3 linked regions of the Homo sapiens genome follow. The protein of the gene in region 1 interacts with the protein of each later gene in a biochemical or structural test. Each region holds a gene or a part of one and is shown on either strand. Other genes may lie near its edges.

The links. The genes of interacting proteins can lie anywhere in the genome.
Region 2: the proteins of ARFRP1 (region 1) and VANGL2 form a complex in vitro, tested with the Homo sapiens proteins (one study listed by BioGRID).
Region 3: the proteins of ARFRP1 (region 1) and CYTH1 form a complex in vitro, tested with the Homo sapiens proteins (one study listed by BioGRID).

The regions. Positions count from the first base shown.
Region 1 is NC_000020.11:63,698,147-63,701,848, forward strand, and holds the end of ARFRP1 (ADP-ribosylation factor-related protein 1), read right to left. Parts: coding exon 3,684-3,702; intron 2,557-3,683; coding exon 2,456-2,556; coding exon of another isoform or gene 2,452-2,455; exon of another isoform or gene 2,385-2,451; coding exon 2,297-2,384; 3' UTR 501-2,296; downstream 1-500. Other genes in the region: TNFRSF6B (tumor necrosis factor receptor superfamily member 6B precursor), read left to right, coding at 134-417. UniProt on the Homo sapiens protein: Trans-Golgi-associated GTPase that regulates protein sorting. Controls the targeting of ARL1 and its effector to the trans-Golgi. Required for the lipidation of chylomicrons in the intestine and required for VLDL lipidation in the liver.
Region 2 is NC_000001.11:160,424,501-160,427,090, reverse strand, and holds part of VANGL2 (vang-like protein 2), read right to left. Parts: intron 1,974-2,590; coding exon 1,713-1,973; 3' UTR 1-1,712. UniProt on the Homo sapiens protein: Involved in the control of early morphogenesis and patterning of both axial midline structures and the development of neural plate. Plays a role in the regulation of planar cell polarity, particularly in the orientation of stereociliary bundles in the cochlea.
Region 3 is NC_000017.11:78,702,050-78,705,836, reverse strand, and holds part of CYTH1 (cytohesin-1), read left to right. Parts: intron 1-3,232; coding exon 3,233-3,299; intron 3,300-3,596; coding exon 3,597-3,715; intron 3,716-3,787. UniProt on the Homo sapiens protein: Promotes guanine-nucleotide exchange on ARF1, ARF5 and ARF6. Promotes the activation of ARF factors through replacement of GDP with GTP.

The sequences.
Region 1 (3,702 bases):
CACGGCTCACTGCACAGGGATTTCTCTCTCCTGCAAACCCCCCGAGTGGGGCCCAGAAAGCAGGGTACCTGGCAGCCCCCGCCAGTGTGTGTGGGTGAAATGATCGGACCGCTGCCTCCCCACCCCACTGCAGGAGCTGAGGAGTGTGAGCGTGCCGTCATCGACTTTGTGGCTTTCCAGGACATCTCCATCAAGAGGCTGCAGCGGCTGCTGCAGGCCCTCGAGGCCCCGGAGGGCTGGGGTCCGACACCAAGGGCGGGCCGCGCGGCCTTGCAGCTGAAGCTGCGTCGGCGGCTCACGGAGCTCCTGGGGGCGCAGGACGGGGCGCTGCTGGTGCGGCTGCTGCAGGCGCTGCGCGTGGCCAGGATGCCCGGGCTGGAGCGGAGCGTCCGTGAGCGCTTCCTCCCTGTGCACTGATCCTGGCCCCCTCTTATTTATTCTACATCCTTGGCACCCCACTTGCACTGAAAGAGGCTTTTTTTTAAATAGAAGAAATGAGGTTTCTTAAAGCTTATTTTTATAAAGCTTTTTCATAAAACTGGTTGTAGTTGCACAGCTACTGGGAGGGCAGCCGGGGACACCTGAGCCGCCCGCTGTGCCCAGATCCCTCAGGCTGCCTGCCATCAGAACTGCTGCCCGGGGCTTCCCCTACCTCAGACAGACCCTCCCTGGGAGGATCAGTGGGGAGTGCCACCTCTGCCCCCAGTGGCTGTGGCACGTGGCAGGGGCCCCTGAAGCTCAGCGAGGGTCAGGGCCTGGGAGGGTATCATTGCTGGAAGAACAGGATGGGGCTCAGGCCAGCCCTAGTCGCCGGGGCCCACACTAACCCCCCACTTATGAATTCCTCCCACTCCCAACTCACAGGGGATTTCCCGAGAGGGGACCTGCCAAAGACCTCCTCCAGGCCTCCCATGCTTTCCGGGAAGTGAAGCTTCTCCCTCTCTGGGGCAGGCTCTGAAGCCTCCCGATGCACCCAGAGCAACCGGGGGGCTGCACCAGCCACTCGCCTCCCCAGCACGGCCAGGTTCCCGGGGCTGGAGGTCCCCCCCAGGTCCTGGGAACCAACCTGCAGAACACACACAGGGTCCCCTGGAGAGGACGCGGGGACTTCCAGGGCCCGACTCCTGTGAGTCACAGCCCCGCAGCTGCTGCGCCACCCCCACCCTGACTCATGCCCCTTCCCAGCAGCTCCTCCCAGGACCCCATGTCCTTCCCACATCCGCAGGAAGGGAGTGCCTGGACTCTCCAGGCCCACCTGGGGAGCCCCTCACCTGCCCACCAGCCCCTGAGCAGCCCAGTAACACCATCACCGTGTCCAACAGCCAGGAGCCTCCACCCTCCAGGAGGGAAGGGATGGACAGAGCCACACTCGCCGTCTTTATTTTGCACTCACCCTGGGTGACACTGGGCAGGCCGCTCCTGCCCACAGCCAGACTGAGGAAGAACACAGCACTCGGCAGGCCCAGTGGGGTCCGTGCAGGGAGGACCCCAGGACCAGCCTTACTCCCGAGCAGGGGACACAGGGCCCCACAGAGAACCCCTCCGGGAGGTTCTCTCCTGGCTGGGGGAGGGCTCTGGACCCCCACAAACACTCCCCAACTTGCGGGGCTGGGGCATAAAAACAGCCACTCCCAGCAGGCCCCCTCAGCTTTTTGCATCAGTCAGCTCCCTCCCGGGGGATTAGGGTGAGGTGAAGCCAGGCCCAGGCGTGGGGTATAGGTCTTCCCCCGCAGGCCTCAGCCCTGTCCCGAGGCTGCATCACAATCCAGGGCCCCCGCTGGCCTTTGGGAACATGGCCTGGGTCTTCCTCAAGGCAAGATCAGCCCCAGACCACTTCCGGGGTCACGGGGTCACGGGGTCACAGGGCAGAAGCCAGATGGCAGCCATGGCTGACGGGCCTCCTCCTCGATGGGGCGGAGACAGCCACGGGGTCTCCCGAGGGTCCCACAGGGCTGTCCTCATGCAGCCCAAGCCAGCCTGAGCACTGGAGCCCCAATTCCCAACCAGGTCTCCCTCAGACCCCCCAGAAAGGGCCTCGAAAGGCCGCCGCTGCGCCCTGTGGAAAGGCTGCCGCTGCAGGGCCTGGGCCAGCCGGGCTGCCAGACTCCCCTCCAAAGCCTCCGGATGCCTACGCTTTTCCAGACATAGAGGAAAGTTTGTCTTCGAGAAAACAAAGTAAATAGAAGAACCCCAAAGCAAAGCAAACCCACCCCCCAGATCAGCAGCATGGGAGCCAACAGGAGGCCACTCCTCCAGCACCAGGGGACCAGCCGTCCCGACGGCAGCGCGGCTGCGCCTACGTGATGTCCCTCTGCCGCGGCGGCCGGTGCACATTCCGCACGACACACTTCACCATCCACTCGATGCCCTCGCGCACCCCTTTGCTGTGAAGACAGCGGGTGTGAGGCGGGGGGTCTCGGTCCCCAAAGCCCCCGCAGGTGCAGCCCCCACTCACCCTGTGAGGGCCGAGCAGGCCTGGGTCAGGCAATCTCGCCTGCCGATCTTGCTGGTGCAGTCGCTGAAGGCCGTCTTGATGTCAGGGATTGAGAGGCACGTCTGGGGGAGGTAAGGCCGTGAGGAGCAGCCCCCACGTCTGGCCCTGTCCTGCCTGTGGGCCCGGGACTCTCAGAAGGGCGTATGCCCTTCACCCCAGGGAAACAGCCAGAGCTCCACCAGGGTCCCAGTGTCTCCCACAGAGACCACAGCAGTGAGGACCCTGTGCTCAGCCCGAGGCTGAACATGGCTGGTAGTGCCTGAGACAAACTAGACGTCCACACGGCTCCAAGGAGTCCACCCCCCATCCCCTCCCTGGGGGACACCCTGAGCCCCGAGGTGGGGCGCTGAGGACTGAGGCCTCCTGGGCAGTGGCGGAGGCAGGTCCCAGGGGCCCACACAGCCGGGGATGATGGAGAGGTGGGAGCCCTGCATCAGTGATGGAGGCAGTCTGCAGTCATGGTGGCTTCTGCTCACAACCACCTGCCCAGTCTTCAAAAAGCAGCCCTCCCCTCCCCTTTTCCTCCGAGGGGAGACCCCTGCCCCGTACCAGATGTCCCTCTTGTCGGCTGAGATTGTAGGGGAGGCCAGCCTTACAGGCTGGGGGCAACAGAGCCACCCCAGAGAAGGCAGGAAGTGAAGATTCACCTGGCCCTCTGGACGCCGGGCTGCTTCTGTGCAAAGCCACTCCAAGAGAACAGCTAGAACTCAGCGTGGCCAGTGCTCCCGGGGGCAGTGGCACCTCAGAGGGGTCTTGAGGGGCTGCCCTGGGGGTGGGGCTGGCACAGATGCCACCTCCAAGGGTAGCAGGAACAGGTAAGGGTCAGAGCTGACTCCCACCAGGGCCCCAGCATCACTTCTTTGAGCTCTGAGTTTCACCTGGGTGTCCCCACAGCTTGGCCACACACTCCTGAGACACGGCCGCCCTCCTGGGGAGAGGTGCCCTGCATAGCAGGAAGAGGCCTCTGGGCGCCTGCCCTGAGGTGGGAGAACCTCCAGGGCTGGCAGCAGCAGGTCTGGAGAGGAACCAGGCTTGGGAAGCTGCTGGGGGCAGGGCAGGCCTTGAGAATGGCTCTGTACCCCCTGGGCAGTCACTGGGCCTGGGGTGTCTGGGTGCACACCTGCTCCCCTTGCTGTGGGGGAGGCTGGGGACTCGGGAAGCTGCTGCGGGAGGCAGGGGTGGGGCTCACCTCCACATCCTGCTTGTTG
Region 2 (2,590 bases), on another chromosome or scaffold:
CACAACCCACCCCTTTGGGGACAAGGTAAGCATTGGCCAATGAGCTCCTCTCTAGCATGCGGTGGGTAAACAAGTGAACTTTTGCAGAAAGGACAGCAGGAGAAACCCCGATCACTAGGCTCCATCATTCCCAGGGCTGGTGCTACACAGAGGGGGAGCCTCCCAGGGGAGACACTGGGGATCTTATCCCAGGATGTGCTCTGCAAGGTAAGTACCAACCAGTCTTTCAGGGAAAAGAAGGGCCTACAAAAGGACACTGTGAGTTACTCAGAGGAATGGCCTAGTCATTGCAGCCATCAGAAAGGTCCTCCATGTGGATCCTGGCTGGATGTATATGGGTACTTCCTAATTCTACTCTCCTTGGCAAAAATGTCTGAGTCAAAGGCTCAGATTTATATTGAAAATATTTATTAGAGGGCCAGCAAATTTTGCTCAAAATGAGATCTAAATTATCAAGAATTTGGATTTGGTGCAAAGACTATGGAAGCTAAAATGGGGTGAGGGGTGAAGTACCTACAAAAGGCAGTAATCCTTGCCCCTCAACCCAATACAGACGGAGCCCAGAGCTCAGAGAATCAGGCAGGGAGAAAAGGGGTGGGGACCCTGGAAGGCCAAGGAAACGAGACCCCTGAGGCAAAGAACTGGACTTAAGGCAGGGGATGAGGAGGAGCTGCCGGCTCTTCCCCAAAAGAGATGAGGCAACAGGTCTCTGGAGTCGAGAGAAGGCGGCAGGACAGGGGTGGCTGGTGACAAAAATAAAAACATTTGTCTAAGACCACAGGGGCTGGGTCAGGGTCTGCAAGCCACTATGTCTGTACAGGAGTCTACATACCATCCTTCACTGGGAAGAGCGGGGACGAAAGTGAGGGTAGGGTTAGGGAGCAGGAGTCAGTGATGGGGGTCTCTCCAAAACCTCAGGGATCTATTCAGCCCTCCTCCTCAGGGGCTGCCTAGGAAGACACATTGGAAGAAAGGTACCTTCCCCTAAGTCCCTGGAAAAGTGGTCACAGAGGGTTTCCACGTGGTTGCCTATGGTCACGTGACCATACAAACCAAAAACATTAGGTGGAGATTTCTGGGAAAAGGATGGGATCCTTCTTTGCTCTAAATATATGTGGAAGCAAATGCTCCTAGCAAGGAGATTTCTAACTCGGGCTGTGTGGCAGGAGTATCCCTGCCCTAGAACCCAGGGTTTGTTGTGGCTGGGGTGAGGGACAGGAGGGCCAGTTGCTGCCCTGGAGGAGTTTGGCACTGTGGCTCTCTGGAGTCATGTCCATGTGCCCCAGAGAAACCCTGTTGGGCCACTGAAGAGAAATGTTTTAAGAACTTGGATTTGTGAGTCGGGGCTCAGGAGGGGAAAGTACAATCAGCAGGGCCCTGTGCCCTTTCAGGAGAGACTGTAATCTGGGAAAAGACTAGGGAAAGAAGAGGGAGAGAGGCACTGATTCCTGCAGGGCCTAGAGTAATACAAAAGTTGTTGGTGAGGTGGGAGTCCTTCCCAGGTACTGTTGACAGCAGGATGGTCTCTCCAGGTTCACATGGGGTAAAATAAGGAAGAAGCGAGGAGAGAAGGTGGGGGTGCGTTAATTCAAGTAAAAAAAAAAGAGCAAGAAGAAGAAGGGTGGCAGGAATGTGGCTGGGCCTGAGAACCAAGCCCCCTCCCACCCCCTCAGGACCCCCCAGAGTTTCCCACTCCCCCTGCTGTTGCACAGTCACACTGAGGTCTCAGACTGCAGCCTCATGACAAACTTGTGTGACTTGGGATCCACAAATTCCTCGGAGAGTTTGAAGAATGGGACCTTCTTGGTGCTGACCACCAGGCTGAAGTCCTGGCGTTTTAAGAGGAAAACGATGCCATCCTTGAGGCCGTTGGTCACCGGCTCCTCGCTCACCAATGTCCACTGTTTGGCCAGCCAGCGTTCCTTGTGGTACTGGATGGTAGGTCCAGCCGCCAAGTATCGCTCCAAGAAGGCCTGAAGTGGAAAGAAGGGGCTGCATAAGAATCTCTGTCATCTACCCACGGTCCTTCATCCCCTAGGTCATAGTTTCCAAAGACAAGAAGGACGTCCCTGAGCTCACTCTATGCATATGAACTAGAACCTCAGAATGTTACAGCAGGAAGGGGCCTGAGATCATCTGCTTCAGACCCTCATTTTATAAATGAAGAAGCCGGAGTGCACAGGGGGATGTGGCTCATCAGGTAGGACTGAACTCGGCTCCCCTGACCCCCATCTGCTGCTCTTCTCCCTGCACCAGGCTGTGACCTGGGCAAGCCCTCCCTCATTCTTCCTTCCTTCCCACACAGCTTGTATGATTCGTGCCAAGCAGGTCTGCACCAGGAGGGAGCCAAAGGTGTCAAGGTTAAAGTGCAACATCTTTAGTTACCTGCTCACCAAGGGTGGCTCAGGGAAAGCAATTCTAGGAAGCTGGCAATAGAGTTGAAGGTGGGCAATGGCTCAAAATGACACAAAGCCAAGACCAGCTAGTGGAGGTGAAGAGGGTAATGGAGGTGAAAGTGGGCCTTTGGATCTGGTAATTCCGGAGCCCTCATAGAGATGAGAAATAAGTCTCAGCCATCCCCAAAATGGTC
Region 3 (3,787 bases), on another chromosome or scaffold:
AGTGAATTTGGGAAGACTTGTAACTCATGAACTGCATCTGAAGTTGTGAGTCAGGAAGTAGTCTTTAGGTTATTATTATTTTTTAATCTGGAACTTAAAATGGTTTTCCGGTATCGAAAGCGCCAAGACGGAAGTGATTCTGCACATCCCTGAGGATCCATCCATACGGGTACTCAGGCTCACCCTGCATTTGTTTCTCAAGCAGGCATTACATTTGCTCGGACTTTCTTATAGGAGAGAATTCATGTTTCTCATCGACGATCTGATGCATTTTGTAGGAATGATCCTAAATACTATTTAATCAAGCAGAAATAATATACTCATGTAGTACAGGATTTCACTTTCTGAAATGTATACGCGTCAGTTAACTAAGGCGATCCAGTAGCAGTAAGCTGTTTTCCTTTGGACACCTTAACTGGGGTGTCAGACCTGTGTAGGCTGGGGAAAGCCACTTAGAGAAGTAGCTGCCTAAGGCCTAGAGCTATAGGGGCTCCAAGTGGGGCAGATAGAGAAGTGAGCTGGCTAGCTAATGAAATTAGGGAGCCATCTCTGGTGTGTGTCCCAGGCAGTCATGTGGCACAGACTGTGACTGGCGGATATCTGGGAGTGTGCGTTCTGGTGGCTGCAGGAAAGCCTTTGGTGAGGACTGGACTGAGGCCCAGGAAGCTGAGCATTCCCAGGAGTTTCACCCCTTGCTTCTGTGGGCACCTCTGACGCTGCCTCACCACTTACACTGGAAACCATGAAACAGGCCTTCCTTGTGGTATTTGTTTGGAAATACTGATCAAAGTAATCTTCCTGGATTTAGAAAAAAATGATTAGACAATCATTTTAGTTAAATAGGAATTTCTAGATACCTGGTCATAACCCTTCATTCTGGCTGAAATTAAATGGTGTTTCCCCCATGACTTTGTTTCCTAAGGCAGCTGTTGACAGGGGAGCCCAGATTATCTTACACCTGGAAGTTCTGATACTACTCACAGTTTTCAGGTGTTCCTTTCAAAAGGTCAAAACAGCCTGGATGCGATGACTCATGCCTATAATACCAGCATTTTGGGAGGCCAAGGTAGGAGGATTGCTTGAGGCCAGGAGTTTAAGACCAGCCTGGGTTACATAGCAAGACTCTGTCTCTACAAAATATTTTAAAAAGTAGCCAGTTGTGGTAGTATCTGCTTGTAGTCCTAGTTACTCAGGAGGCTGAGGCCGGAGGATCACTTGAGCTCAGGAGTTAAAGGTTGCGGTGAGCCACAGTCACACCACTGTACTCCAGCCTGGGTGACAGAGCAAGACCCTGCCTGTAACAAAAACAAAAACACAAAAAACACCAACCCTCAAAACACTTAGGAATATTTTCTTCCCTCCATGGATTTAGCTAGAGAACACATGTGTTCTTTAAGGCAATAACATTTTATGATTTTATTTCCGAGCAACTTTTTTGCTCTCGGAGATTATAAAATTACTATTGATATTGATGGCAGTGGTTCTTAAATTTGGGTGCATACCAGAATTACTGCAGGAGGTTTTAAAAATTCAAATTCCTAGGTTCTGCCCCTTGTACTTCTGAGTTACTCAGCCGGTCCAGGGCCTTGCTACTCAGACTCCACACATGGGATCATGTTAAACATACAGCAGAAGCACAGGCCCCTTCTCAGACATAGAGTCAGAATCTGTTTTGTTGAGGCCCCAGGTGACGTGTATGTATAAACGAGCGGAGCGTCTTCACGTCTGATATGCTCCCAAGGCTGCTGGTTGGTGGACCAGACTTTGAGAAGCTTGGTCTGTGAATCTGCATTTTTCATTCTGATACAGTCAAGAAAACTGCCTATTATTTAGCAACTTCTTAAAAAGTTAAATACAGATGTACCGTATGACCCAGCAGTGTCCACCCCTGGGTATCTACCCAAGGAAAATGAAAACGTGTCCACACAAAGACATATATGCAAATGCTGATAGCAGCCTTCTGCATAATTGTCCCAAACTGTAAACAGCCTAAGTGTCCATCATCTGGTGAATGGATAAACAGATGTGGTTTATCCATACCATGGAAGATGACCCAGCAGCAAGAAGGCATGTAGTACTGGCCCACGCTCCAGCACCATGACCTTGACAACATTATGCTAATGAAAGAAGCCAGATCTGAAAATCCACATCTTTTATGATTCTGTTTGTATGATATGTCCAGAATAGGCAAATCTGTGGAGACAGACAATAGATTAATAGTTGCCTGGGGATGGAGGTAGAAGTAAGGATTAACTGTAAAAAGGTGTGAGGAATTCTGTAGGGGAGATGAAAATGTTCTAAAACTGGATTATGGTGATGTTGCACAACTTAGTAAGTATACTAAAAATTCAAATATGTACCTACAGTAGGAGTATTATAAGTAAATTATACCCTGATAAAGTTTTTTTTTTTTTTTTTTTTTTTTGGAGACGGAGTCTCACTCTGTCACCCGGGCTAGAGTGCAGTGGTGGATCTCCACTCACTCCAACCTCCAACTCCCAAATTCAAGTGATTCTCCTGCTTCAGCCTCCCGAGTAGCTGGGATTACAGGTGCCCACCACCATGCCTGGCTAATTTTTGTATTTTTAGTAGAGACAGGGTTTCACCATGTTGGCTGGGCTGGTCTTGAACTCCTGACCTTGTGATCCACCCACCTCGGCCTCCCAAAGTGCTGGGATTACAGGCATGAGCCACTGTGCCCGGCCTACCCTGATAAAGTTTTTTTAAAAATCATGTTAAAAAAAGAAAACTGGCTGGGTACAGTGGCTTATGCCTGTAATCCCAGCACTTTGGGAGGCTGACGCAGGCAGATCATTTGAGCCCAAGAGTTTGAGACTAGCCTGGGCAACACAGTGAGCATGGTGGCATGCGCCTGTGGTCCCAGCTACTTGGGAGGCTGAGGTGGGAGGATCACTTGAGCCCAGGAGGCAGAGGTTGCAATGAGCCGAGATAGCACCACTGCACTTCAGCCTTCAGACAGAGAGAGACCCTGTCTCAAAAAAAAATAAAGAAAACCTCTGTTCCAGGGTAGAAGGAGCAAATGAGCTTGGAGCTTGGAGCCAGGTTCAGGCTTCAGGTTTCAGTTGGCCTTTCATAGTTCCACCAGATTATGCCTGTTGCTTTCCTGGATAAATCTTTCAAAAACCTGTGTAAATCAGTGGAAATCATATTAGTCTTTCAAGCCTTTCCGATGGCCTGAAGTACTAAAATGGCTGTGATGGTTGTTTTACAGGAAAAACATGCAGAGGAACAAACAGGTAGCCATGGGCAGGAAAAAATTTAATATGGACCCTAAAAAGGTAAGTGAGAAAGAAGCGGGAAGTGGTCCATATTAGATGGGGTTTTTTTATAGTGCTCAGATAGACCCTAAAAACGTTTTTTTCCAAGCGTTACAGTTCATGTTGCCGTTTTGTAGAGCAAATGTTATGCACTAAGCCCTTGTTCCTAAACTGTGACTCCCCGGCTTTATAGGTCACTTAGCAAGTATTTATTAAATATTCCAGTGCACCCACACCCATTTCTTCCTGTGCCCTTTCCCCTTCTTTTCAACTGTTTCCCAGCAAAGCATCATTGGCGTCTTTGTTGTCTTTTTCTAGGGGATCCAGTTCTTAATAGAGAACGACCTCCTGAAGAACACTTGTGAAGACATTGCCCAGTTCTTATATAAAGGCGAAGGGCTCAACAAGACAGCCATCGGCGACTACCTAGGGGAGAGGTAAGGCCTTGGGGATTATGCGCATGCTAGGGAAGGCTGTTCAGGAACGACACAAAGAAACAAACTCCCAAA